Linked DNA regions of Homo sapiens. The protein of the gene in region 1 purifies or fractionates together with the protein of each later gene. This does not show direct contact. Each region holds a gene or a part of one and is shown in the gene's direction. Other genes may lie near its edges.

Region 1 (4,049 bases):
AGCAGTCTGGACAGGCTGGGATGAGGAACGGGCTCTCCAGGGGAGGGAACAAAGGTCCTGTCTGAGACTCTGAGCCATCACCTGGCCCCTCTGTGACTCACCGCCACCCTCAGCCCATGCAGCTATCCCTCATTCATGCCTGCCTGCCTGCCTGCCTGCCTGCCTGCCTTCCTTCCTTCCTTCCTTCCTTCCTTCCTTCCTTCCTTCCTTCCTTCCTTCCTTCCTTCAGTCCAACTGTTTTCTGAGCTCCGCAGAGGAAACACAGAAGACAGCCTCCCTCAGGAATAAACACTCAGATGTTCCTGACCTGGGCCAAAGCTCTGGGCTGGGAAGAAAACAGATGGAGGGTGTGGGAGAGAGATAGGAGGTGGGATCTGCTGGCTCCAGGAAGCCCCCAGGCTGGTGGGGGACAGAGCTGAACACAGTCACCCCAAGCCTGGTGGGAACAGGGTGAGGCAGAGGCAGAGGCAGTAAGACTGGAAGAGGAGGAAGGAAGAGCTCCCTACCCACTGGTCCCCAAAGCTCCCTGGAGCCGCCATTAACTTTGAATGAATGAGTCGGCCAAGTTCAGCCTGGGTGCTGGGGGAAGGAGCACAGTTTTGGGGACCCCCAGCCCTGGTGATCCCAAACTCCCTGGGGCTCTGGCTTCCTGTCATCCTGGAAATGGGTGTTGGAGGTTAGGACTGGGTGGCCTGATCCAGACGGGCGTCTCTCCTCCCACAGAAGGTGGCCTCTAACCGAGTGCCCCAGCATGTACCCAGTCCCACCCCTGGAAGGCCCTACACCTGGCTCCCAGACACCCCCCAACTTGCAATCACCCTAGTCCCCCTCAAGGCTCCCCTATGCAGAGCTAGACCCCGGAGGAGGTCGTTTGAGGGGCAGGCATTGAGTTGCTTTGCAAAGTTGTCTTTCAGCTGATGCTTACGGGGAGGACAGTCCCCAGGCGTGCAAAGGTTGACAGAGCGGCTGAAGTTTGGGACCTAATTTTGGGGAGGGGGTATAGTTAGGAGGTCCGGAGGGCTGTTGGGGGCGGGGGTTGGAGCTTCACCAAGGTCCTTCCCGTCTTATGGGGCAAGAGGGGGAGTTCGAAGACCAGCCGCATGCCGGGGGGTTGCAGGGGGCGCCGGGGAATGTGGGATCTTTAAATATGGGCGGGGCTTGCGGGGTCGTCGAAGGCGGTGCCAACCCGGGCTCGGCCAATCGGCGGCGGCTCCCGCGTCGCACCGCCCCCTTCTCTCCCGGCCCGGGCGGGCGCTCGCCCCCCGCCGGGCCCGTGGACTGGGCGGCGGGGGATGCGCCTGCCGCCGCCGCCCCCGGCCCCGCCGCCCCCGGGCCCCGCGCCCGCTCGCTGCTGCCCGCCCCGTCCGCGACCCCGGCTCCGGCTCCCGACTGGGGGTCCGCGGCCGCGCGGGACCCTCTCCCCTCCAGCCTTGTCCGCCCGCTCGGGCCGAGCCCCGCAGGTACAGGGTGGGATGGGTGAGGGTGCGGGAGGATCCAGGATCTGCAGCTCAGGGAGCCCGAGGAGGGAGGCACGTCTCGGAGGGGGACGCGGTTTGGGGCAGGGGCCAAGAGGGAGGGTCTCCGTGCGGTCCGGAGCCTAGGAGACACAGGAAAGGTGGGGGGAATGAATGCATGTACATTGCCCGAGTGAGTGAGGATCCACGCACCCCCATCCTGGGAGGGGGAGGGTGCAGGGTTCACTTTGGGGGAGGGCAGAGCTGTGAGTCTCCAAACTGCATAGATAGGGTTGGAGGTCGGGGAGCTCTCAGGGATGGACAGTGACCCGCAATGACTTGGGAATGGGAGGGAGGTGACCCACCACTGGCCCCTGGATCCAGGGGTTGGGGCACTCAGGGAGGGGTCAGGAAACCGGGTCTTCCATCTCTCCCCGGACAGAAGTCCCGGACCCAGCTCGGGGCACTGCCCCTGCTGTTCTGGAGGGCTGGCCAGCAGATGGGAGTTCCCGAGGCTGGGGTCTGAGCGGTGAGGCTGATGGAGATGCATCAGAATGGAGGGCCCCCGAGGGAGGCAGCCTCCAGGAGAGCAGGCTAATTGCACCCTGCTGGCTGCTGGCAGGCTCCTGGCGGGTGGTGATGGGGGGATCGGGCGGGTAGCCAGCGCCTTGCTGCACTGGCTCCTGGGCGGCCCATGGGACGGGAGGGCAGGCAGTGTCTGTCTGCCCTGCAGAGCTAGGGCCCTGTGATTATTGGGGGAGGGGAGGGGAAGGGAGGGGTGGGGGTGGTGGCGGGAAGGGGGATCCTCGGAGACCTTCCTCAACCTCAGCAGGGACACCCGGACTCTGGCTGCGCCCGCTGGGGACCCACAACAGGCCCACATGTCCCAGAAGTTTCTGCTGTGTGCTGATCTGGTTGTGGTACCCGGAAGCCCCTGGGTGTGCATCTGGGGAGCAGGGGCGGTCTGCCTTGGGGATTGAGGGGCAGGGAGCACCTTCTCTTGGTCCAGTTCTGAAGAACAGAAATCAATGGCATGAAGCTCTTACAGACTGCAAAGCATTTGCCATGCGAGATCTTACTCTGTTCTGGACACCAACCCTCGTAGTGGGGGGGTGGGGGGGAGGCACCATGAGGAATCTTTACAAAGCAGGTGGCCAAGGAGTGGGCAGTAACTTGCTCCCTGGCAGGGGTACCTAGGGCCCCTTCTCAGTGGCTGCCTCAACCAACCTGTCATTTGTAAAAATGCTCGCTGGAGGGCCCTGGGGGCCTGACTGGGATTCTGTCTCTTCCCATGTCCTGTTGGGTGGGGAATCTAAGGAGCCATCAGCCCTGCTCCCTGCTACCCTCATCCTCTCCTCAAGAGCTCTCATGGGTCCCCCCAGGCACACGAGGTTCCCCCAGAAGTGTGTGTCTCCAGGGAGGGTGTGGAAGTGGGTCTCTGCTCATCCCCTGCACCCCAGGCTTCAGGGAAGGGAGCTCTCATGACCAGACAGAGTAGTAAAAGTAAGGCAATATCAAAGACCTTCCAACCCAAATACACCCCGTAGGATGTTTGTTGTTTGTTAGAGATGGGATATTGCTAGTTGTCCAGGCTGGTCTCGAGCTCCTGGGCTGAAGTGATCTCCTGCCTTGGCCTCTTGAATAGCTGGAACTAGGTATATACCTAGCTAATAGGGTGGTATTCCTCACTTGGCAAACCCAGGGCTGTTACCCAGAAAAACATACCCTTTCATGGGCATCCAAACCTTGGCTGAGGGTTCCCAGGGGCTCCTGGGTCTCTGGGAATCCCTGAGGGTCCCAGGGACTCCAGTGTTAGGCCCAGATTGCAGTGGGGGAGGGGATGTGTACCCAGGAATGGGGAAGGCCCAGGCACTCATCAGTTCTGTGCTCCAAGCTAGTGGCTTCTCGACGGCAGGACCAGGCCAGTTCCCCTCCCAGAAAGCAGACCCTGCCACCTGCCACGCCTGGATGGCACTAATTTAGTCCCTGCCTTTCCTGGCTGGGTGACCTTGGGCAAAAGGTGCTGAGCTTCTCTGAGCTCTGTCTCCCGTCTGTAAAATGGGAACGGGAATGCCACCTTGCTCACCGGTGGTGATAGGGATTAAATGTGATCACCCTGATCTCAGGCTCAAAGCATAGTAAGAGCCCGGTCCACAGTAATGTGGTGGGTGCCGGGAAAGCCCTCCACCCCTCCACCCCTCCACCCTCTTGGAAGCCACCTGCCATTTCTCTCCTCCTCCCCACCCCCTCCCTGCCCAGGGCACCTTAGGACGCGGCTGCCAGGCGAGGAGGAACATGGCAGACACACGGCTGAATTTGGCCCATGCGTCGGGTGGCTGAGTCACATCCCCAAATTGCATCTTCATTGGTGCGTTTCGGAAGGTCGTTTGCAGAGGCCATCGGAGGCCTACACCCCCTCTGGGTTCTGTCTGCCAGGCCACCCGCTTCTCATCCCTGTGCCCCCCATCCCCAGCTGGGGAAGTTTTGCACCCTCGGGGATGGTGGAAGGGGTGCCTGGGTTTTCCTGGGCCCCCTGGAGGAGGGCAGGATCTGGGGTTCCTGTGTGCACCCTAGTGCAAGCTCCCAGCCCCACCT
Region 2 (3,500 bases), on another chromosome or scaffold:
GGATGCTGGATTGGACAGAGACTTACAAGAAACATAAACAGAAGCAAGGGTGAGCATTGATTAGAACCTGGTTCAAAATTAACAGCTATAACAGATACGACAGAAACTATATGAGTCCACTCAGGCTGCCATGACAGAGGACTACACACCAAGGGACTAAAATAATAGATATTTTCTCACCATTCTGAAGGCCCAAAGTCCAAGATCCGGGTAACAGCAGGGGTAGTTTTGGTGAGACCTCTCTTTCTGGCTTGCAGGTGACCACCTTTTTGTCACATCCTCACAAGGCCTTTCCTCTGTATGTGCAAGAAGAGAGAAAAAGGTCTTTGGTGGATACCAGACCTTTTGGATTACAGCCCACCCTTATGACCTGTTTAACCTTAATTACCTTCTTAAAGGTCTAATCTCCAAATACAGTCACATTGGGGGTTAGGGCTTCAACATATGAATCTGGGGGCGAGGCATACACAGGTCAGTCCATAACACAAACTGTTGGGGAAATCTGAATAAGGACTGGGTATTAGGTGATATTACAGAATTATTGCTAATTTTCTTAGGCTTGGGAATGATACCATGAGTGTGTAGGAGAATGATTATTCTTAAGACAGTGCTCACCAAAGTAAAGGAGTAAAGTATCCTAACTGCAGCTTACTTTGAAATGTTCAGAAAAAAAAAAGGTCAATAAATAAGGTAAAATGTTATCAGTGTTGAATTCAGGTATCTGGATATGGATGTTAGTTATACTACTCTTTCGGCTTCTCTATGTTTGAAATCTTTTTATAATAAATATTTGAGGGCAAAGGGAGTGTGACACCAAAGTAATAGTGAAGACAGTTTAAGAAACATTGATCATAACATTCCACAGTAACCTTCTAAGTTCTGAAAACTTCACCTTGACCCTCCTTAGTCTTTTCCGTGCAACTGATTAATCAAAAGGCATTGCTGATTCCAAAGATATGAGTTACTCTTTCGTACTGGTCCCCAAAAGTCTCATTCATGTCTTTGTAGAGATGTTCCTAGGCAGTGTGATTTCTCAGGAGAGTATGTTGTTGCCATGAGCCCTGCAGAACCTCCCACTTGGAGATCCAAGCTGCCTTCCAACTTCCCGTGAACTCTTCTACTCCTTTTCTGCCAAGCCCCACATCTTACGCCATCACCCTGGGGGACTGCACCATATTCTAAGGCTTCCCAGTGACTTCTTGTCCATTCTCCCTCCAATAGTGGTGGTGTGATGATCTACTTTGACAGAATTGAAGTGGTGAACTTCCTGGTCCCGAACGCAGGTACGTCTTAACAGTTTATTCCCACCACCAGCTCACTTTCCCCAGCATGCCACTCCCGTGTCTGTTGTAGCACCTTGGAAAAGGAGAGCTGCCGTGTCTGAGGGCATTTTGAGTCTTGCCTTTTCTTATGCCAAGCCCTCTCCTTCCCTCTCAGTGTATGATATAGTGAAGAACTATACTGCTGACTATGACAAGGCCCTCATCTTCAACAAGATCCACCACGAACTGAACCAGTTCTGCAGTGTGCACACGCTTCAAGAGGTCTACATTGAGCTGTTTGGTAAGAAAGTCTCTCCTGAGCATGCCGTGCTTAAGCAGGGTTCCTGGAACCCCGCGTCTCTCCACTGCCTAAAGCCTGGCTGCCTGCAGGGTGTGATGGTCACTTATGGACAGGAAATGTTAAAGAATCTTGTGCTCAGGAGCTGGTCACAAAGGAGTTCATGGAGAATGCTGATAGCTATGCAACAAGATCCTTAGAGGGCTGGAGCTTTGGGCACAGGGACCATAGTGGAGTAGAGTATTCACTTCTGGCCTCAATCAGAGGCTGGAGTGGAAATGTGTTCCCACTGTTCCTAAACTATCATTCTATAATGAAGACAAGGTCCATTCTAGAAGAACCTTAGAGATTGTCCAGACCAGCATCCTCATTTTAAGCTGAGGGTACTGTGACCCAAAGCAAGAAAGTCACAGAGCCAGATGCCAATTAGTAGTGGGGCTGAAACAGGAGCCTTCCTCTCCTGGCTCTTCAGCATTCTTCTCACCATGCAACACTGAATGGAGGGCCCCCAGGAATGGGTGATGAAAAAGACATGATTCATAGTTAATTCTAGAAGTGAGATGAGAACCATAGCTCCTTCCAGTTCTCAGAACCTTTGTGATTATTATTTTTTTACTCTGTACCTGTAGCAACGAATAGAAAAACACTTTAAACAAAAAGATTCCACGTGCCTAAGTAGATATGTTTTGTCCTTTTTACCTTTTTCAAAGTAAAGGCAACCTGACTTAGCAGCAAAGGAAGGACACAGTTGGGTAACTGTTATAACTTGTTTGCAGTCAAGTATTCTGTTTAAACTCACTGCCAGAAATTCTCTAATAGCCAATGCCAAAAGTAAATGAATTTTTAACCAATAGTATAACTGTTCTTGACACTAGGACTGGAAAATGATTTTTCCCAGGAATCTTCATAAAAGGGACCCTGAGCAAGAACATTTTTCATAGCAGACAGGAGGACTCATCCACATCGCCAGCAATCATAATTAAGCAAACCGCCTTTTGCACCATTTAAGATTTAGGAAATCATCCAAATTACTTTTAATGTTTCTGCAGTAGAAAATGAATCTAAATTCATTTTATAGGGTTTGTAGTCTTTTATCTGTTTTGGATTCACTGTGCTTTTAAGAAAAAGTTGGTAAATTTGCCGTTGATTTTTCTTTTTAACCTCAAACTAATAGAATTTTATAAAATATTAATTTTCTCTAGCCATTGTCTTAGGACTTGTGACATTACATGAACATTTCAAAGCACTGAAAAAAGACAAAGGATCCCTAATGTCCCTGAAGAGGAAATTAAAATACAAAGTTGTTTTTCATTAGCAAACTTCTTACTTTCTTACAGCTAAACTTGGTAGCTTAGTGAAGTACAGCTGCTTGTATGGAGGAGCTGGGGAAATATATTTGCTTTGAAACTTTTTTATTTTTACATCTCAGTCTTGCTAGCAAGCACTACTTGGCTTAGAATCTGTCATATCCATAAAGGAGGAGCTCATGTCTCTAGTCCTGGCCCTTCAACTCAGAAGGTTCTTCTATACTTTCCTTCTCTCAGGACTCTTATAGCCCAGACTTTAAACATGAAGCTGCATAATTTTCATCACTTCTTACTCTGCCGCATCCTCTTTGCCCATGTTATTAAAGTATTATCTAATACTTTGAAGTTTACCTGAAGAACCTCTTTGTGTGTACTTAGTAATACAACTTTTTTTCCTGTCCCAACACCTTTTAATACAGTTGAATGGATAAAAACATGGATACAAACACATGGATATAGTTATCACTGAAGCAGTGTGACATAAAATAATACCTATGTATACAACACTCCTCTGTAAATAGCAAATGTAAAGTAAAAGATACACAACAGATCATTTTGTTTATCTCACTATCATTTATTAATCTATAATGTATCCCTCCTATGTATCCATGCAAGGAAGCAATACTAGCTGCC

What was found.
Region 2: the proteins of KCNN1 (region 1) and ERLIN2 purify together in Homo sapiens (affinity purification with western blotting; one study listed by BioGRID). This does not show direct contact.

The regions. Positions count from the first base shown.
Region 1 is NC_000019.10:17,965,858-17,969,906, forward strand, and holds the start of KCNN1 (small conductance calcium-activated potassium channel protein 1), read left to right. Parts: upstream 1-1,249; 5' UTR 1,250-1,292; coding exon of another isoform or gene 1,293-1,460; intron 1,461-4,049. UniProt on the Homo sapiens protein: Small conductance calcium-activated potassium channel that mediates the voltage-independent transmembrane transfer of potassium across the cell membrane through a constitutive interaction with calmodulin which binds the intracellular calcium allowing its opening.
Region 2 is NC_000008.11:37,743,134-37,746,633, forward strand, and holds part of ERLIN2 (erlin-2), read left to right. Parts: intron 1-1,221; coding exon 1,222-1,283; intron 1,284-1,437; coding exon 1,438-1,563; intron 1,564-2,435; coding exon of another isoform or gene 2,436-2,470; exon of another isoform or gene 2,471-3,417; intron 3,418-3,420; exon of another isoform or gene 3,421-3,500. UniProt on the Homo sapiens protein: Component of the ERLIN1/ERLIN2 complex which mediates the endoplasmic reticulum-associated degradation (ERAD) of inositol 1,4,5-trisphosphate receptors (IP3Rs) such as ITPR1.